Regions from separate parts of the Homo sapiens genome. Here all the other regions are linked to region 1. The links come from fine-mapping of genetic effects on gene expression. A gene starts in region 1. Each other region holds a variant in brackets. All regions are shown on one strand. Distances are between the middles of the regions. Region 1 holds the start of PLBD2 (phospholipase B domain containing 2). Region 2 overlaps PLBD2 (phospholipase B domain containing 2). Region 3 has its middle 3.4 kb from the start of CFAP73. Region 4 holds the start of SDS (serine dehydratase).

Region 1 (5,147 bases):
AGATATGGCACAACTGAAAGAAGGTACCGAGCACAGTGGCTCACATCTGTAATCCCAACATTTGGGGATGCTAAGGTGAGAGGATCACTTGAGCCCAGGAGTTCAAGACCAGCCTGGGCAACATGACAAGACCCCTGTTTCTACAAAAAAAAAGAATTTAAAAATTAGCCAGGCATGGGGGTGCGTATCTATAGTCCCAGCTACTTGGGAGGCCGAGGTCGGAGGATTTCTTGAGCCTGGGAGTTCAAGGCTGCAGTGAGCCATGATCATACCACTGCACTCGAGCCTGGATAACACAGGGAGACCCTGTCTCAAAAAAAAAAAAAAAACAAAAAAAAAAAAACCTTTTTTAAAAAATAAAAAAGACGAAGGATTATGGTGTAGGGAGAATTTATCCTGATAATCCCAGGATCCCCAGTGGCAAAATCTGGGGATTTCACCAGGAAGGAGGAGGATCCTAATTCTGAGTGAACAGAGGCATCAAATCCCTGCCCCCACCCTCCGAAATAAGACACAGAGTCCCCCACAGATCAGAGATTCTGCTGATCAGGAGCCAGGACACCCCCTATGGCTTTCTTTCATCTGACCCTGAGTCCTCAAGCAGCTGTCTCTGAGGACCTCAGTTTCCTGCCTATAAAATGGGGCTCGCTTTATGGTTTTCCCTGCATCAGAGCCTCAAGGGCTGGCAAACTCAAAGGGAAAGGGGCATGTGAGCGTAAGAGGAGGGGATGAGAGAGGGTGCCGAAAACAAGCCAGAAAGTCCAAGATGGGCAGATCACCTGAAGTCAGGAGTTTGAGACCAGCCTGGCCAACATGGTGAAACCCCATCTCTACTAATAATACAAAAATTAGCCGGGCATGGTGGCACACACCTGTAATTCCAGCTACTTGGGAGGCTGAGACACGAGAATCGCTTGAACCCAGGGTGGGGAGGTTGCAGTGAGCCAATATCGTGCCCCTGCACTCCAGCTGGGCAACGGAGTGAAACTGTGTCTCAAAAAATAAAATACAAATAAAAATAAATAAACAGTGCTTTCTGTGACCCCAGTGAATTTCCATGACCCTTTTGGTCCTACCTTGATATGAGGGAACATGCTCAGAGAGGTGAAGGGATTTGCCCAAGGTCACACAGCAGAGGGGCTGAGCCTGGAAGAACTTTCCATCCAGCACAATCAAGGAAGCCTTCTCTCCACTTCCATGTTTACCATAGTCAAGAGCAACACAGCCCAGGAGGGGCCTCCAGAGGCCAAAGCCCCCTCCCCATGCTGGGCCTCGCTCCTGCCCCTCCTCGCCTGAACAGTTCTGTCATGTCCTCTTGATTCTGCTATGCAGGGCCAAAAACATGAGTGAGTCAGCAAAGAACGGGTCACCAGATCCAAGAGTCCCGGCAGCCCCCGAGGCCAGCCACAAAGCTTCAGTTCCCTCCACAGATGCCAGCTCACTCTGTGGCCTCCTCTCTCTGGGAGCCTTCCCAGATTTACCCCAACCAGTGCCCCTGTGTCTGTGCAAATATCTCCCCCAAATCTCACGTCTACTTGATGTACCCCCCAAGTGCCACCAGAATGGGGGTGTCCTCGGCATCCTGTGTCTCCCTAACACCTGCAGAAGCCAATGGATGCCAGTAAAATGGATAGGGGCTAAAGTGGGAGGAGGCCCTTTCTGCTGCAGGGGGCAGTGTGGTCTGAGCACAGACCACATCCTGGGCACATCCTAGTGCTAGGGTTCCCTAGCATCATCTGGACACTAGGATATGACGGATGCACCCCGGGTTCCCTAGGATCCCCCAGCACAGCCTGATCCAGCGTCTGGGCCCTGCTGACAAGGCTTTGAAGCTGATCCTTCCCACTCCCACTGACTCTGATTTCTCTTCTATCGCTGTCTGTGTTTCCCACTGAGTAGAGACAGCTGCTCAGCTGTGTCCCTAAGGCCAACCATCAGGGTAATGAATAAATGAATGGGCACAAGCCCTTGTACAGAACTTGCAGCACATGACCACCCAACTAGAGCACATCCTCAAAATCTGGGCCACAGATGGGGAAACGGGAGCCCAGACAGGCGGAGGAGTTAGGTGAGACTCACACATCAGAATGACAGCCTGGGTTCCAGCAATAAAGATGGTGAGCATGGCTGCCAAACACGGCATCCAGCCAAGGACTTCCCCTTGGACCAGGACACAGAAGACAAGGGAGGAGCAGAGCCCTAGCAGGATACTAAATGGGTCTATGTGACTTTAGGGACCCTCTGCTTTTGGACTAGCCTGGAACCCAGGTTCAGTCCTGCTGACCTGGCACTGGAAGGGAGGCAGGGTGCTGGCACCCACGAGCAAGCCACAGCCAAGCAGGTAAGAATTAGTCTCCTGCTGAGTTCTCATCACCCCTCAGGCCTGGGGACAGGGGGCTGGCCTCCATGGGGTGAGGAGGCAAAGTCTAGGGAAGGGAGCAGGTCCCCGTGAGGATAGAATTTACCCACCAGCCATGGACCTGATCCAGATGCAGGCACTGCGGCCTCGGTGGTAGGGAACTGGCTTCTTGGGGACAGAAGTACTGTCACCACTGGCTGAAGGCAAGGGACTGGCCCCATGAGGTGAGGGATGCCGCAGTAGCCAGCTCCCAAACAGGGTACTTGGCCCGCAGGGCGGTGCTGCAGCCTCGGGAGTAGCTGACCCCCAGAGAAACGGGCGTTCCCACCCGGCAAGAGGCCGGTCCCGGGAACAGGCGAGGTCCGGCGCCCACGCATCCCCCTCCCCCGATGGCCCCGCGTGGGGATAAGCCAACCCTTACCCAGTCTCGCGGATGGCGTTGGTGAGGTTGGCCCAGGCCACGGCGTCAGGGTGGCGTCCGTCCACCATAAGCAGCTGGCCCGCCGAGACGTCCAGGAGCACCGAGCGGCTGCGGGAGGCTGGAGGGACCTGCCCATCGCGCGCCCAGCGGCCCCCCGGCGCTGGGATCGCCCCCGCCAGGCCGCTCAGGAACGGCCCGACCAGCAGGGCCAGCACCAGGGCCAGCGCCAGCGCCCGCGTCAGCGCCCGGGCCAGGTGGCTGCCGGGGTAGCAGTACATCTGGCCCACCATGACCGCACAATGCTGCGCCCCGCAGCCCGGGTCACGTGACTGCGCTCTGCCATGGGCGGGGCCGAGGGCGGGCGGGGCCGGGCTTGGGCTGAGCCTTTCCGGGATGGGAGGGGCTGGCGCGAGGGGAGGCCTACGGGGCGGGACCCACCTTAAAGAGCCCGGCCGCCCCTTCCACCTACGCAAACCCGGTTTAGCACACTTCCCCAAGTTTTTTTTTTTTTTTTTTTTTGAGACAAGACAAAACCTCCATATGTCGCCCAGACTGGAGTGCAGTGACGCGATCTCGGCTCATTGCCACCTCCGCCTCCCGGGTTCAAGCGATTCTCCTGCCTCATCCTCCTGAGTAGGTGGGATTACAGGCGCGCACCACCACGCCCAGCTGATTTATGTAATTTCAGTACAGACGGGGTTTCGCCATGTTGGCCAGGCTGGTCTTGAACTCCTGACCTCAGGTGATCCGCCTGCCTCAGCCTCCCAAAGTGCTGGGATTACAGGGGTGAGCCACCGCGCCCGGCCAGATTTATTTAATGGTATTTGCCATTTATTTAATACAGTTATCTAATGCAGTCTTTATTCCAACTTTTCCCATTGTCCCTCAAATACCCTTTTTACATGTGTGTGGGAAAAAGCTGTCTAACTACTACTCAAAACCTAGATGCCGTCGGGCGCGGTGGCTCACGCCTGTAATCCCAACACTCCAGGAGGCCAGGGCGGGCGAGTTCAGGAGTTCAAGACCAGCCTGGGCAACATGGTGAAACCCCCGTCTCTACTAAAAATACAAAAAAGTAGCCGGACGCAGTGAGGCGCGCCTATAGTCCCAGCTACTCGGGAGACTGAGGTAGGAAAATCACCTGAGCCCGGAAGGTCGAGGCTGCAGAGAGTCGAGATTGCACCACTGCACTCCAGCCTGAGCAACCAGAATGAGACCTTGTCTCAAAAGAAAAAAAAAAAAAAAAAAACCTAGATGCAATAAAAGATTAATGCATTTGACTGTATAAATTTTTTAACTTTTTCATGTCAAAAAACTCAATAAGCAAAGTCAAAAGACATCTGACAGACCAGGAGAAACTATTTGCAACATATATCATATATATACATTACATATATATATGTATATATATCTCAACATATATCATATAATATATCAGGAACTCTTAAAATTTGAGAGGGAAGGCCAGGTGAGTGGTTCATGCCTGTAATCACAGCACTTTGGGTGGCCAAGGTGGGAGGAATGCTTGAGCCCAGGAGTTTGAGACCAGCCTAGGAAACCTGGCAAGACTCTGTCTCTATAAAATATAAAAATTAGCTGAGCTTGGTGGTGCACACCTGTAGTCCTGTTGTGGGAAACTGAGGAACGGAGAGACCAATATGAGAGAACAGGAGGATGTTTATTTCAACGTACGCACTGGCTCAGTGGATTCACATCCAAAAAGCTGAGCCTAGAACAAAGATATTGTGGGGTTTTTATAAGCAAGCTTAGAAAGGTAAAACAAAAGTAGTTAATCATATAGTGCATAACTTGTGGCCTTGCATAGCTGGTGGCCTTGTAGCTGCATCAAAAGTAAAACAAGAACTGGCTAAATAGAGAGGTTTGTAAAACATAGTCATGCTTAAGAGACCAAGGAAAGGAATAGCAATAAAATAATTTGTCTTTCTCTCTTTTTTTTCCTTCAACCTTGCTCTGGAGGCGGGCGGTGGGGTGGAGGGCGGGGTCTGGAGCCCAGTCCTCTGGCCTTGGCTTTTCGGACAGCGTTATCTTATAACTGTCCTTGAAGTGAGCTGCTAAGCAGAGGAAAACTTGTTCTTCTTCTTTTTTAACCCTTGCCTTGCCACATTCTGGGCCTTAGCTCTTACTTCTCTTGGAGTGAATATATGTAGTACTTATTATTATTATTATTTTAATTTCTGCCTCAGTCCCAGCTACTGGGAGGCCGAGGGGGGAGGATTGCTTGAGCCTAGGAAGTCGAGGCTACAGTGAGTTGCACTACAGCCTGGGCAACAGAGCAAGAAGTTGTCAAAAAGGAAAGAGAGAGAGAGAGAGAGAAAGAGAGAGAAAAGGAAGGAAGGAAGGGAGGGA
Region 2 (5,147 bases), 22 kb before region 1:
TGATCCGCCCACCTCCGCCTCCCAAAGTGCTGGGATTACATGTGTTAAATACTTACTTAATCTGCCGGGCATGGTGGCTCACACTTTGGGAGGCCAAGGTAGGTGGATCACCTGAGGTCAGGAGTTCCAGACCAGCCTGGCCAACATGGTAAAACCCTGTCTCTACTAAAAATACAAAAATTAGCCAGGTGTGGTGGCATACACCTGTAATCCCAGCTACTGGAGAGGCTGAGGCAGGAGAATGACTTGAACCCAGGAGACAGAGGTTGCAGTGAGCCCAGATCATGCCACTGCACTTCAGCCTGGGTAACAAAAGAAGAAATAAATAAAAATAAAAACTCATATCCAGTTGAGGCACGTGTTCCCCACCAGTTCCTTGGACAAGCACGCAGGAGGATTTGGGATCATGCATCTAGCTTTGCCCTGGTGAACAGCCCCTGAGAGGCCCAAAGAGCCGCTCCCATGAACCCACTCCCTCACCAAGCTGGGCAACCTCCCATTCCCACCCCTTTCCCACAGTTCTGCAGGAAAAGTTGCACGGCCTGAGGCTGTCAGCCTGGCAGATGCAGCAGTCAGAGGACTAGGAGGCCTTACAACAGGAGAGGCCCTCAGTCTCCCTCCAGCCTTGGGGCATGCAGGATGCCCACCGCTGCCTCCGATTGCCTCCTCTCCCTTCTCCATTTCCTGCTGGAACCCTTGGCTGCCTTCAGCATATTTGAAAAGTAAAGCTTAGTTCTTGTGAGTTAAAAACCAAACCAAACAAAACTCATGTAATCCCAGCTATTCGGAGGCTGAGGCATGAGAATCACTTGAACCCTGGAAGCGAAGGTTGCAGTGAGCTGAGATCGTGCCACTGCACTCCAGCCTGGGCAACAGAGAGAGAGCCTATCTAAAAAAAAAAAAAAAAAAAAAAACACACACACACACACACACACACACACACACAAAAAACCACCACCACCACCACCCCCACCAAAAAGCTGAGAACAGCTAAAAGATAGCTGTATCCATAAATGTGATTTTTTCTTTTTTCTCTTTAAAGAGGAAAAAAAAGGCTGGACACAGTGGCTCAGCACTTTGGGAGGCCAAGGGGGTCAGATTGCTTGAGCCCAGGAGGTCAAGACCAGCCTGGGTAACATGGCAAAACCTGTCTCTACAAAAAATAAAAAAATTAGCCAGGCATGGTGGCAGGCGCCTATAGTTCCAGTTACTTGGGAGGCTGAGATGGGAGGATCGCTTGAGGCTGAGGTGATAGAGGCTGCAGTGAGCTGTGATCATGCCACTGCACTCAGGCCTGCATGACAGTGTGAGATCCTATCTCTGAAAAAAAAAAATCCTGAAATTTGGTATTTCTTTCCACTGTTAACGTGACACACCACAGTGGTATTAGTAGTCACTGGGACGGTCACTGTCAGAAATCACAGATGTTTTTCCATCAGATTACAAGGCTGTACATACCTTAAAGTATCATTCATGCACCTTGCTTCTTCTAACTTATGGTATTTATCACACCTGCTTCTGGATCTTATTATTCAGTGTGTTAATAAAGCAGCACATATATACTAAAAGTTTACTTATATTTTGATAACCATATTTCACTATAACTGGTTTCCTCCATAATCCTATACATTTTGGTTTATGTGTCTAAAAACACTAATTTGCCAGGCACAGTGGCTCACACCTATAATCCCAGCACTTTCGGAAGCTGAGGTAGGAGGATCCCTTCAACCCAGGAGTTCGAGACTGGCCTGGGAAATATAGTGAGACCTCATTTCTACAAGAAATTTAAAAATTAGCTGAGCATGGTGGCATGTGCCTGTAGTCCCAGCTACTCAGGAGGCTGAGGCAGGAGGATCGCCTGAACCCAGGAGGTGGGAGGTTGCAGTGAGCCACGATCACACCACTGCATTCCAACCTGAGTGACAGAGAGAGACCCTATCTCTATGAAAAAAAATAAATAAATAATAAAAGTTAAAACACTATTCTGAGAAGAGGGCCAACAGCCTCCTGGACTGCCCAAGGTGTTTATGGCACAAAAACAGTTAGGGACCCTGATGGAAGGGAAGTTTCCTGCCCAGACCCTTTCCTGGTAACCAGGTGGAACCATTTCACGTGTCCCTCCCCAGCTGCCTCAGTCCCCTTCCCCACCTGGGCCACAGCATGGGGGTTCCCTCACCCACCGCCTGGCCCTCTCTTGCCTCGTTCCACACTCAGAAAAAAGCAAGGATCAGACAAGAAGAAGAGTCCCCACCCCTCCCGTCCCCGCAGGGAGCTGGCGTTCTCTGCGCTAAGGGTGTTTTTTAGAGTGATGTTTTTTCTCCTCTGTCTCGTTGCCCTGGAGATCAAAGGGTTCACTTTCTCAGCGAGGGGTGCCAGGGACAGATTTCTAAACAAGTCTGGACCGCAGCCAGGAAAAAAGATGAAAACAACACACTGTAAACAGCCTCTATTCAGCAAACCTGGTCAGGTCAGAGGGGCTCTGAGGAAAGCAAGAGGGAGGCAGGAGGAGAGGGAAGCGGTGGGGATGTGGGGGGGGCGGGGGCACAGTTATCCTGAATACATAAAAACAAGTGAGGTCACTGAGGTCAGGGATAGTCCCAAACATCCCCAAGTCCAGCCTTTCCTGACAACCAGGGTTACATGCAGAGTCCCAGGCCATCTGCAGGTTTTGGAGGCCCTGTGCGGGGCCTGGGGGTCTATGTTTAAACACGCCCTTGTG[G/A]TGGTCCAAGTCCCCAGAGCAGGGGAAGGGCGAGTCTGGGCTCTGAATGGCAGGTGGGGCAGCGTCCACCTCATCCTCCACTGCACCCCTGGCTCCTACATGGCACCCAGCACTGGGCTGCAGCCTGGTCCCCACTTGCCGCAGGAATCAATCCTGCCAGCTCAGAGCCGCCGTGTGACAAACACCCCAGGAACAGAGGAGACATGAGAAAGGGACTCACCAGCCCACTGCCCAGGATGTAGAAGTCGTCGCAGGAGAAGATGGTGCCGGGGTAGGAGGAGAAGACCAGCTTGTTGCCGGGAACCAGCGGGTAGTCCCCTGTGCAGGCAGAGCGAGCCAGGGATGCTGGTCAGACAGGCACAGGTGGAGGCCCCTGCACCCTACCTAACAAGACACAGGCACAGGGGCACAGGCAGGCCTCCGAGGAAGCCCCCACTGTGTCCTTTTTGTCATTTAGCAAATGAGGTCATTGGGCATATAAAAGTGCATATACGTGCAAGTAAAAATAAAAGCTAGCAGCAAAACTTATATAGTTGGCCCTCCATGTCCGTGGGTTCCACATCCTTGGATTCAATCGACTGGGGACCAAAAATACTAGGAAAAAAACATGATTAAAAAGAAACAACACAGCTGGGTGCAGTGGCTCACACCTGTAATCCCTGCACTTTGGGAGGCCAAGGCAGGCGGATCACGAGGTCAGGAGACCAAGACCATCCTGGCTAACACGGTGAAACCCGTCTCTACTAAAAATACAAAAAATGAGCCAGGCGTGGTGGCGTGCGCCTATAGTCCCAGCTACTTGGGAGGCTGGGTCAGGAGAATGGCGTGAACCCGGGAGGCAGAGCTTGCAGCGAGCCGAGATCGCGCCACTGCACTCCAGCCTGGGCGACAGAGTGAGACTCCATCTAAAAAAAATAAATAAATAAATAAATAAAAGAAATAACACTAAAAGATAAAACAAATTTTAAAAATACAGTATAACAACTATTAATGTAGCATTGTATTAGGTCTTACAAGTAATCTAGAGATGATTATAGGATATGGGAGGATATGTATATGTTATAGGTAAACAGTCAGCCGTATTATAGAAGAGACCTGAGCTTCCACAGGGGCTCCTGGAGTCAACTCCCTCCCCAACACCAAGGGACAACTCTGTGTGTGCGTGGGTATATGTGTATGTGTTAAATATATATACTCAGATAGATAGACAAACAGATAAATATTTTGTTCACTGGACATTTTTTTTTTTTGAGACAGAGTTTCGCTCTTTTTGCCCAGGCTGGAGTGCAATGGGGCGATCTCAGCTCACTGCAACCTCCACCTCCCAGTTGTAAGCGCTTCTCCTGCCTCAGCCTCCCGAGTAGCTGGGATTACAGGCCCACCCCCGGCAGGTACCCTCACCCCTGCCCTAGAACTCCTTCTACCTGAAACCCATCCCTTGACAAGTGCTAGTCTGGTTTTATGCACTGTCTGCAGCAGGGCTACTGTGACCTCACGCTTATGCTGGAGGCTCATTACCCCTGTGATCTTGTAAATTGACTCCTTATACCCGCCCTGCATGGGGGCAGAGAATTATCATCTGCACTTTGCAGATAAGGCAATCTGAGACTCAGAAAGGCTAAGTAACTTAGCAGAGGCCAAACAGTTAAATGGCTGAGCAGGGATTCTACCCAGACCTCTTCCCTACAGTGCTCCAGAGTTCTGGGTGTAGCTCTCTGAATTATCCTTTGTCTTTTTTTTTTTTTTTTTTTTTTTGAGACAGAGTCTTGCTCTGTTGCCCAGGCTAGAGTGCAGTGGGGGGATCTCGGCTCACTGCAACCTCTGCCTCCCAGGTTCAAGTGATTCTCTTGTCTCAGCCTCCCGAGTAACTGCAATTACAGGCATTTACCACCATGTCTAGCTAATTTTTGTATTTTTAGTAGAGACATGGTTTTACCACATTGGCCAGGCTGGTCTCGAACTCTGACCTCAAGTGATCCACCAGCCTCGGCCTCCCAAAGTGCTAGAATTATAGGCATGAGCCACCGCGTCTGGCCTGAATTATCTCTTCCACATTAAGTCTTTGCACTTTAAAACAAAGGGACCAGTAGGCCGGGCACAGTGGCTCACGCCTGTAATCCCAGCACTTTGGAAGGCCAAGGTCAGGAGGCCAGGAGTTTGAGACCAGCCTTACCAACATGGTGAAACCCCATCTCTACTAAAAATACAAAATTAGCCAGGTTGGGGGTGCATGCCCGTAGTCCCAGCTACTCAGGAGGCTGAAGTGGGAGAATTGCTTGAACCTGGGAGGCGGAGGTTGAAGTGAGCCGAGATTGTGCCACTGCACTCCAGCCTGGGCAACAGAGTGAGACTCTGTCTCAAAGAAAAAAAAAAAAAAAAGGAAAGGAAAAAGGCACAGTGGGACCCAGCGCAGAGGCTCACACCTGAA
Region 3 (5,147 bases), 210 kb after region 1:
CACACCTGGCCAATAGTTTGGGCTTTACTGTGGGTTAGATGCTATGCTCAGCACTCTATAGTATCTAAATTAATCCCTAAGACAGCCCTGTGGGGGGTGGATGGTACTAGGGAAAAGTACCAAGAGTAATATAAAAAGTACCCTTGGGTTCTTCAATTCAAAGCAACAAACACTAGCATCTTGTCCTCCCTGCTTCCGGTCATTTTATTTTCCATTTTAAATAATTTATTTTCCATTCAAAGAAATGTATTTTCTTAATGTAGAGCAATGCTGTTTCAAAAACCTATAGTTCCTTGTAATCCTACATTGCTTAAAAAACTCCTAAGGATTTCGTTAGAGCATGTTTTAAAAAACAGAACTAGGGCCGGGTGCGGTGGCTGATGCCTGTAATCTCAGCACTCTGGGAGGCCAAGGTGGGAGGCTTGTTTGAGCCCAGGAGTTCCAGCCCAGCCTGTGTAACACAGAGAGACCCCATCTCTACAAAAAATAATAAGATTAGCTGGGGATAGTGGCATGTGTCTATAGTTCCAGCTACTCGGGAAGCTGAGGCAGGAGGATCACTTGAGCCCAGGAGGTTGAGGTTGCAGTGAGCTATGATCACTCCACTGCACTCCAGCGTGGGCAACAGAGCAAGACCCTGTCTCAATCAATCAATCAATCAATATCTAAGAAATTAAAAAGAACTAAAATAATGTACATTTTACCTTTGAGCATTTTTAAAAATTAAATTGGACATGCTGTCTTTCTGCACAAATTGATGTGAAGTTACAATAAGATATGATCTCATTTTTTCATTCTTTTTTTTTTGAGATGGAGTCTTGCTCTGTGACCTAGGCTGGAGTGCAGTGGCACGATCTCCTCTCACTGCAACCTCTGCCTCCTGGGTTCAAGCGAGTCTCCTGCCTCAGCCTCTGGAGTAGCTGAGATTGAAGGCGCGCGCCACCGCATCTGGCTAGTTTTTTGTATTTTTAGTAGAGATGGGTTTTTGCCATGTTGGCCAGGCTGGTCATGAACTCCTGACTTCAGGCGATCTGCCCGCCTCAGCCTCCCAAAGTCCTGGGATTACAGGCGTGAGCCACCTTGCCTGGCTTCATTTTTTTCTTAATTTTTTAAAAGATAAAGGTATCTTTTACAAAAAGTAAAAGTCACTTTTTCCATATACCATTCTATGGATTTTGGCAAATGCATAAAGTCATGTAATCACCACCACAATCAACATACAAAACATTTCCATCACCCCAAAAAGCCCTTGTGCCCCTTTATAATCAACCCTTCCCTCCACACCAGCCTCTGGCAACTTCTACATATTCTTTGTCCTTCGAGTTTTACCTTTTGCAGGATATCATACATGAAATCACGGTATACACTTTGTAGCCCTTTGAGTCTGTCTTCTTTCACTTAGTAATATTCATTTGAGATTCATTCATATTGATATGTGTATCAGTAGCTCATTCTTTTTCATTGCCGGGTACATTATATTATGAATACTATAGTTTGTTGATTCATTCCCCAGATGAAAGACAGGTGAGTTGCTTCCAGTTCTGGGCACTTGCAAATACAGGCTGTATTCATGTGCAGGTTTTTGTGCAAACATAAGTTTTCATTTCACTTGTGTAAATATGTCAGAGTGGTATTGCTGTGTCGTATGGTAAGTGTATGTTTAACTGTATAAAAAACTGCAAGCTGTTATTCAAGGTGGCTGTACTATTTTTATATTCACACTAGCAATGTACAAGAGTTCTAGTTGCTCCATTAGGAGAGTTCTAGTTGCTCCATATCCTCACCAGCAGTTGGTATTGTCAGTTTTTTAAAAAGTCATTTTATGGCCGGGTGTGGTGGCTCATGCCTGTATTCCCAGCACTTTGGGAGGCTGAAGCAGGTGGATCACCTGAGGTCACCAAGACCAGCCTGAGCAACATGGTGAAACCCAGTTTCTACTAAAAATACAAAAATCAGCTGGGCATGGGGGCATGTGCCTGTAATCCCAGCTACTCAGGAGGCTGAGGCAGGAGAATCGCTTGAACCTGGGAGGCAGAGGTTGCAGTGAGCTGAGATTGCACCACTGCACTCCAGCCTGGGTGATAAGAGTGAGACTCTGTCTCAAAAAAAAAAAAAGGTCATTTTAATAGTTGTATTGTAGTATAGATTATGGTTTAATTTTTTTTTTTTTTTTTTGAGACAAGGTCTGGCTCTACCACAAGGCTGGAATGCAGTGGCATGATCTTGGCTCACTGCAACCTCTACCTCCCAGACTCAAGCCATCCTCCCACCTCAGCCTCCCAAGAAACTGGGACCTCAGTCAGGTGCCACCACACCCAGCTAATTTTTGTATTTTTTGTAGGTGGGGTTTCACCATGTTGTCCAGGCTGGTCTTGAACTTGTGTGCTCAAGCTATCCGCCTGCCTCTGCCTCCCAAACTGCTGAGATTATAGGCGTTAGCCACCACACCCGGCCTAGATTACATTTTAATTTTTGAGATAACTGTAGATTTACATGCAGTTTAAGGACCAATACAGAGAGATCCCATATCCCTTCCACCCAGTTTTCTCCAGTGGTAACATCTTGCGTAACTATAGTACAATATCACAATCAGAAAGTTGGCATTGATACAACCCACTGAACTCACTCAGATTTCACCATTCTAACATGCATTCATGGGTATGTGTGTGTGTGTGTATATTTAGTTCTATGCAGCCTTGCCTCAGGTATATTTATGTGACAACCACTATAGTCAAAATACAGAACAGTTCATCACAAGGTTCACTTAGAGGCATACTGGTCTCCTGCTTCTCCCCTCCCTAAGCCCTGACAACCATTCCTCTGTTCTTCATCTGTATAATTTTGACATGTCAAGGATGTTAGAGAAATGGAATTGGCCA[G/T]CCACGGTGGCCACGCCTGTAATTCCAACACTTTGAGAGGCCGAGGCAGGAGGATCGTTTGACTCCAGGAGTTTGACACTAGCCTGGGCAACATGATGCAATCCTGTCTCTACAAAAAAATACAAAAGTTATCCAGGCGTGGTGGCGCATGCCTGTAGTCTCAGCTACTCGGTAGGTTGAAGTGGGAGGATCACTTGATCCTGGGAGACAGAGTCTGCAGTGAGCCATGATCCCGCCAGTGCACTCTAGCCTGTGTGACAGAGCAAGACCCTGTCTCAAAAGGAAGGAGGGGGAGGGGGGAGCAGGGGTGGGGGAAGGGAGGGGAGGGGAGAGAAAGGGAATCTTTCAGTATGTAACCTTCTGAGATTGGCTTTTTTCACTACGCGTAATTCTCTTGAGATCCATCCTGGTTGTTGTATGTATCGATAGTTTGTTCCTTTGGATTGCTGAGCAGCATGCCATGGTATGGGTGTACCACAGTTTGTTTAACCATTCAGGCTGAAGGACATTTGGGTCATTTCCAGTTTTTAAGAATAAAGCTATTAAGAGTAAAGCTGGGTCAGGTGCAGTGGCTCATGCCTGTAATCTTGGCACTTTGGTAGGCTGAAGCAGGAGGATCTCTTGAACCCAGGAGTTCAAAGTCAGTCTGGATAACATAGAGAGACCCTGTCTCTACAAAAAAAAAAAAGAAAAGAAAAATCAGCTGGGTTTGGTGGCACAGGCCTGTGGTCCTAGCTACTTGGGAGACTGAGGCAGGAGCCTGTGAGGTCAAGGCTGCAGTGAGCTGTGATCACATCACTGCACTGCAGCCTGGGCGACAGAGTGAGACCATGTCTCCAAAATATATACATACATATATAAAATATATATACATATAAATAAATTATATATATAAAGAATATATATATATGCCATGAAGATTCATGTGCTACTTTTTGTGTGAGCCTATGCCTTTATTTCTTTGGGATAAATGCCCAAGAGTGAAATTGTTGGGCTGTATGGTAAGTGACATTTCGTTTTTAAAGAAGCTGCCAGCCGGTCATGGTGGCTCACGCTGTTCTCCCAGCCACCCAGGCTGCAACAGAGTGAGCTGAGCACTTCTCCCAGCACTTTGGGAGGCTGAGGCGGACAGATCACCTAAGGTCAGGAGGAGTTCGAGGCCAGCCTGGCCAACATGGTGAAACTCCATCTCTACTAAAAATACAAAAATTAACCTGGTATGGTGGTGCACACCTGCAATCCCAGCTACTCTACTTGGGAGACTGAGGCAGAAGAATTGCTTGAATCCAGGAGGCAGAAGTTGCAGTGAGCTGAGATCGCACCACTGCACTCCAGCCTGGGGGACAGAGTGAGACTCCATCTCAAAAAAAAAAAAATTAAATTAAAAAATTTAAAAAAACCTCTCATATTCTTTTGCATAGGGGCTGCACATTTTACATTTCCACCAGCAAAAAATGAATGATCCAGTGTCTCTGTATCTTTGCTGTGATCACTATTTTTTTATTTCAGCCATTCTGATAGGCATGTAGTGATAGCACATTGTGTTTTTATTTTGCATTTCTTTAAAGGCTAATGAAGTTGAACATCTTTTCATGTGCTTGTTTGCCATCTGTATATCCTCCTCAGTAAAATATATGTTCAGTTCAGTGAAACGCCTCTTGCCTATGTCTTAACTGGATTGTTTTTAACTGTAGAGTTTTATTTATTTATTTATTTATTTATTTTAGAGCCAGAGTCTCACTCTGTCGCCCAGGCTAAAGGGCTTAAGCAATCCTCCCACCTCAGCCTTCTCAGTAGCTGTGACTACAGGTGTGCACCACCGTGCTAGGCTAAGTTTAAAAAATTTTTTTGTAGAGATGGGGTCTTACTACATTGCCCAGGCTGGTCCTGATCTCCTGGCCTCAGGAGAGCCTCCTACCTCGGCCTCCTCCTACCTCGGTCCCCCAGAGTGTTGGGATTACAGGCATTAGAGATGGGGTTTCACCATGTTGGCCAGACTGCTCTCAAACTCCTGACCTCAGGTGATCCGCCTGCCTTGGCCTCCAAAAGTGCTGGGATTACAGGCATGAGCCACCGTGTGCGGCCGTAATTATTAAAATTTCTTGTAGAGATGAGGTCTTGCTATGTTGCTTAGGCTGGTCTCAAACTCCTGGGCTCAAGTGATTCTCCCGCCTCAGCCTCTCAAAGTGTTGAGATTACAGGCGTGAGCCACCACACCAGCAATTTCTATTCTTATTTTTATTTTTATTTTTTTTGAGACGGAGTTTC
Region 4 (5,147 bases), 43 kb before region 1:
TCCCAGGTTCAAGCAATTCTTGTGCCTCAGCCTCCTGAGTAGCTAGGATTACAGGCACGTGCCACCACACCCGGCTGATTTTTGTATTTTTAGTAGAGACGGGATTTCACCATGTTGGCCAGGCTGGTTTCGAATTCCTGACCTCAGGTGATCCACCCGCCTCGGCCTCCCAAAATGCGGAGCCAATATTTAACCTTTCATCTGAAGCTATCTGCTTAGGAACTAAAGGAAAGGCAGTTTCTTACATGACTCAGCTTTTAGCTTAATTCTTTTTCTTTTGGCATAGTGAGTTGGGGGTCCCAATTTTTTATTTTCCTTTCACGAAACTGAGGACAGAAAGGGGAAGTGGAAAGAGGGAGGAGGAGTGGGTTGTGGGAAAGGCAGGAGGAAGCTGCCAAAGAAGAAAGCTTGGCCAGATTCCACCTCCCTTCTGACAGCCTCAGTGGCCTCAAGCCAGGGGGGTGGGTCCTGGCAGGAGGGAGGGGGGGGTGTAGCCAGCCCCAGGGCCCCATTGGCTGCCCAGAGGTGCCAGAGGAATAAAGCCCAGGACCAAGTAGCCCCTGGGACCATTCAGAAGACTGTCCACCCGTCCTCAGCCCCCTCTCTTCGTGGGCTATCTACTCAGTTGATCCCTCCCTCGCTGGCTTGGCTCTGACTCCTGCTCAGACCCATCACCTTTGCCGGGTAAGTGGCCCCATCCTCAGTCCCACCTCAGGACTGGAGTGTCCCGGGCTAGCCTGTGGTTTCCCAGGGGAAGAGGGAGACATAGAAAGAGTCTGTCAAGGCTGGGCATGGTGGCTGATGCCTGTAATCCCAACACTTTGGAAGGCTGAGGTGGGAGGGTTGCTTGAGGCCACAAGTTCAAGACTGAGCTGGGCAACAGAGTGAGACCCCCCCCAATCTCTACAAAAAAAATTTTTTTTTTTTAAGACAGAGGTCTCACTCTGTCACCCAGGCTGAAGTGCAATGGCACAATCTGGGCTCACTGCAACCTCCACCTCCTGGGTTCAAGCGATTCTCCTGCCTCAGCCTCCCGAGTAGCTTGGACTACAGGCGTGTGCCACCACGCCCGGCTAATTTTTGTATTTTTAGTAGAGATGGGGTTTCACCATGTTGGCCAGGCTGGTCTCGAACTCCTGACCTAAAAAAAGAATTTAATTAGTATAGTGTGGTGGTGCACACCTGTAGTCCCAGCTACTGGGAAGGCTGAGTTGGGAGGATCGCTGGAGCCCAAGAGGTCGAGTCTGCAGTGAGCAATTATTGCGCCCCTGCACTCCAGCCTGGGTGACACAGCAAGACCTTGTCTCAAATTTTTAAAAAACAGCCATTTGGGCCTAAACACTGAGTTTGTGTCCAGTTCTGTGCCTCAGCTTCCACATCTGTAGAATGGGGATGAGCATAGCGCCTTCCTCCTCAGGTGGTTGTGACGGTGAAAGGATGACCTGCACTTAAGGTGTCCAGCCCAGATTTCATAATAGTTCATATCGACTGAGCACTTACTGTGAACCAAGTGAAAGGGAAGGTGGCTTCCGACTGCCGGAGTGGGCAGACAGCGGCTTCAGGGCTCCCTCCCTCCTCCTCCCCGGGCACAACCTCTTCTGAAGTCTTGCGATCCTTGGGGCAGGGATCCTTGGGGCAGGCTGGATGCAGTTAATGGATGCTCACTTCACGGAAAGCCGCGGCAGAGGGAGCCCTGTCCTTTTACCTGAAGGCATCCCATGGCACCGCCTGGGACAAACGGCGAGAGAGGCGCCCCAAACCCACCTGAAAAGGGTCTTCGTGGCCGGCTCCTCTGACTCCCACCCCGATTGTCCCTGAGGCCAGGCCTTGGTGACCTACACCGGCCTTTAATGTCAAGTCAGTCGGTGTGGTGGCTCACGCCTGTAATCCCAGCACTTTGGGAGGCCAAGGCAGGCAGATGACTTGAGGTCAGGAGTTCGAGACCAGCCTGCCCAATATGGTGAAACCTTGTCTCCACTAAAAATGCAAAAATTATTCGGGCGTGGTGGTGCACGTCTGTGATCCCAGCTACTTGGGAGGCTGAGGCAGGAAAATCGCTTGAACCCAGAAGGCGGAGGTTGCAGTGAGCCGAGATCATGCCGCTGCACTCCAGCCTGGGTGACAGAGGGAGGTTCTCTAAAAATAACTAAATAAAAACCGGGATCCCATTGTTTGGGGATTAACCTCCAGGAGCTGAAAGTTCATGCCGATTTGGGGATGTCCTGTTTTGAAGTTTGCCCCAGTCTCTGATTTTTATTCGAGAGATCCAGCGGAGAGAGGGTGTCTGTTCAAGTTCCCCTCCCAGGCCCCGAATGTCAGTTAATTCAGATAGACAAGGGGTGACCTATTTAGGGGATGCTAAGTCTGGCGGGGCAGTTGGAATCCCCACCCCTCATTCTCCCTCTGACCAAGGGATGTCTGGCTCATTCTGGGAGCGGGGGATGGATGTCCAAGCTAGGAGTGCCCAGGACAGGGGGCTGGACAAGGTGGCATTGGAGATGGGTCTCTGGCTAGCCACCCTTGCCTGGCCTTCTGGGATGGTGGAGGGAGGGGGAACCAGAGAGCCCCTTGGCCATCGTCAGCTGATCTCTTCTGGCCCGGCCCAAGTTGAGGAGAATCAAATCCTCCCTGAGACTCTCAGCAGAAGGCAGGGGAGATGGGAAGGCTGGGTGGGTGGACGTGGCTGTGGCTAGACCCCGGGCCACCCCAGCTGCTTCATCCCCCAGAGCCCATCCAGAAGCAGGAGCCTGAGCCACA[C/T]CCATGGGTCGCAGAGAGAGCCTGAGCCCTGGAGCCAGCTGCCCGAGTTCAAATCCTGCCTCCCTGCCTCACTCACAGCGTGACTTTGGGCAAATTATGTTAATATTCCCCTTCCTGTTGCTGTGTACCAAACTACCCCAAAATGTGACTTAAAACAACAGCAAGCCAGGTGCTGTGGCTCATGCCTGTAATCCCAGCAGTTTGGGAGGCTGAGGTGGGCAGAACGCTTGAGGCCAGGAGTTGGAGACCAGCCTGGCCAACATAGCAAAACCCCATCTCTACTGGAATGAATGAATGAATGAATGAATGAATGAATGAATAAAATTTAAAAGCTGTGATTAGTCACTGCTATAATAATTATGACAAAATTAATAATTATGAAAGAGCTTTTCCTAACTGAATATTGGGCTTCCCAAAAGTTAGGTTATTTTGTTTTTTTTTAAATAAATATTTATTGAACATCTACTATGAGTCAGGCATTTTGCTGGGTCCTGGGATCGTCCATTTAAGCCAAGATACTTGGAACTGCATGTCAGAAGAGCCAGCTGCCAGGTTGTTTTTGTTTGTTTGTTTGTTTGTTTGAGACAGAGTCTCGATCTGTAGACGAGGCTGGAGTGCAGTGGCGCGATCTCGGCTCACTACAAGCTCCGCCTCCCGGGTTCACGCCATTCTCCTGCCTCAGCCTCCCAAGTAGCTTGTATTTTTAGTAGAGACGGGGTTTCACCATGTTAGCCAGGATGGTCTCGATCTCCTGACCTCGTGATCCGCCCGCTTCGGCCTCCCAAAGTGCTGGGATTACAGGTGTGAGTCACCGCGCCCAGCCCAGGTTTTTTTTAAATGTATGCATTTAAGTAAGTAATAGAGGCACATGGTAAAACATCAAACTGTGCAAAAGGTGGGTGCTATGATCCCGAGGGCCAGCTCTCCTCAGAGGCCCCACCCTGGCCAGCCTGTCATGCATGTTTCCTGAAATGCTCTGTGCACATGGAAACATGTGGAACAAAACAAAAAAAAATTCAAATAAAAAAATTAAAAAAATATATAAAAGAAACATGTGGACTATATGTGTGTGTGGATGGATTGTGCGTGTGTGTGGATGGATTGTGTGTGGGAGTGGATCGTGTGTGTGTGGATGGAGTATGTGTGTGTGGATGGATTATCTGTGTGTGTGGGTGTCCCTGAATTTTTCACATAGATAGATAGACTATTCTTTTTTTTTTTTGAGACACAGTCTCACTCTGTTGCCCAGGCTGGAGTGCAGTGGCTCGATCTTGGCCCATTACAACCTCCACCTCCTCGGTTCAAGTGATGCTCCTCCCTCAGCCTCCTGAGTAGCTGAGATTACAGGTGCCTGCCACCATGCCTGGCTAATTCTCTTTCTTCTTCTTTTTTTTTTTTTTCTCAAGACAGAGTCTTGCTCTGTCACCCAGGCAGGAGTGCAATGGCGCGATCTCGCTCACTGCAACCTCCGCCTCCTGGGTTCAAGTGATTCTCCTGCCTCAGCCTCCTAAGTAGCTGGGGTTACAGGCGTGCGCCACCATGCCCAGCTAATTTTTTGTATTTTTAGTAGAGACGGGGTTTCACCATGTTGGCCAGGCTGGTCTCGAACTTCTGACCTTGTGATCCACCAGCCTTGGCCTCCCAAAGTGCTGGTATTACATGCATAAGCCACTGTGCCCGGCCTCACCTCATGCATTTTGAAAGCTCCAAGGTTTGAGTGTTCTCTCTTCAGCCTCCCAGCAAATGTGTGAGAGGTCAGGAGTGGAGGGTGATCCCTGATAGAGCTGAGGCCAAGGCGTGATTACCTGTCTGATGTCACATGGTGAGTAGGTGGCCCACTTGCGATTAGAGCCCAGGTCTCCAGGATGCTCTCTCGTCTGAGGCCTTGCTTGGCTTGCTGGGAAGCGAAGGAAGGGATCACTCTGGCAGTGCTGGCACCGGGGCTAGCTCTCCTAACCCTCTGGGTTTCCTTCCTTTCTCCCAGGAATGATGTCTGGAGAACCCCTGCACGTGAAGACCCCCATCCGTGACAGCATGGCCCTGTCCAAAATGGCCGGCACCAGCGTCTACCTCAAGATGGACAGTGCCCAGCCCTCCGGCTCCTTCAAGATCCGGGGCATTGGGCACTTCTGCAAGAGGGTACGGGACCGGGTCAGCATTATCTGGGCAGGGGTGGCAGGTCCTCCTTCCTCAACAGGGCAGGGCCAGTGCTGTGTGAAATTAAAGGCGTTGTAGGATAAGCCTACTGACTCCCCGCAAGGACTGAGCGTCCACCATTAGGGCTTCCTCTGTTTGAGGGGTGCCCTTCCAGGAGGGTTCCTTGGGACTGATCCCAGAGCCATCAGTCGCCTATTTTCCTCCACCCTTTCCTGAGCCAGTCTCTTTGGAGA

What was found. PIP is the estimated chance that this variant, and not a neighbour inherited with it, causes the effect. A credible set is the group of variants that fine-mapping cannot tell apart.
Region 2: its variant is the best candidate, but not a certain one, in a credible set for the expression of PLBD2 in blood mononuclear cells (TOPMed, PIP 0.85).
Region 3: its variant is the best candidate, but not a certain one, in a credible set for the expression of PLBD2 in whole blood (INTERVAL, PIP 0.75).
Region 4: its variant is the best candidate, but not a certain one, in a credible set for the expression of PLBD2 in whole blood (TOPMed, PIP 0.60).

Annotation. Positions count from the first base shown.
Region 1 is chr12:113,356,524-113,361,670 of GRCh38, reverse strand. It overlaps PLBD2 (phospholipase B domain containing 2), which reads right to left and starts at 3,084. Exons shown (of 12, transcript NM_173542.4): 1 at 2,781-3,084. The coding sequence starts at 3,070. LOC105369989 (a long non-coding RNA gene) reads left to right here and starts at 2,161. Exons shown (of 3, transcript XR_945346.3): 1 at 2,161-2,341. RefSeq lists an enhancer at 1,826-2,325 and silencers at 2,661-2,720, 2,771-3,270.
Region 2 is chr12:113,378,635-113,383,781 of GRCh38, reverse strand. It overlaps PLBD2 (phospholipase B domain containing 2), which reads right to left. Exons shown (of 12, transcript NM_173542.4): 6 at 2,940-3,037. Among named protein-coding and RNA genes, the nearest start is that of PLBD2, 23 kb to the right of the region's middle. RefSeq lists an enhancer at 2,913-3,438. The variant G/A (reference allele first, on the strand shown) is at 2,720.
Region 3 is chr12:113,143,791-113,148,937 of GRCh38, reverse strand. No RefSeq gene overlaps it. Among named protein-coding and RNA genes, the nearest start is that of CFAP73, 3.4 kb to the left of the region's middle. The variant G/T (reference allele first, on the strand shown) is at 2,880.
Region 4 is chr12:113,399,305-113,404,451 of GRCh38, reverse strand. SDS (serine dehydratase) reads left to right here and starts at 565. Exons shown (of 8, transcript NM_006843.3): 1 at 565-684; 2 at 4,742-4,896. The coding sequence starts at 4,744. RefSeq lists enhancers at 2,127-2,626, 2,627-3,128. The variant C/T (reference allele first, on the strand shown) is at 2,758.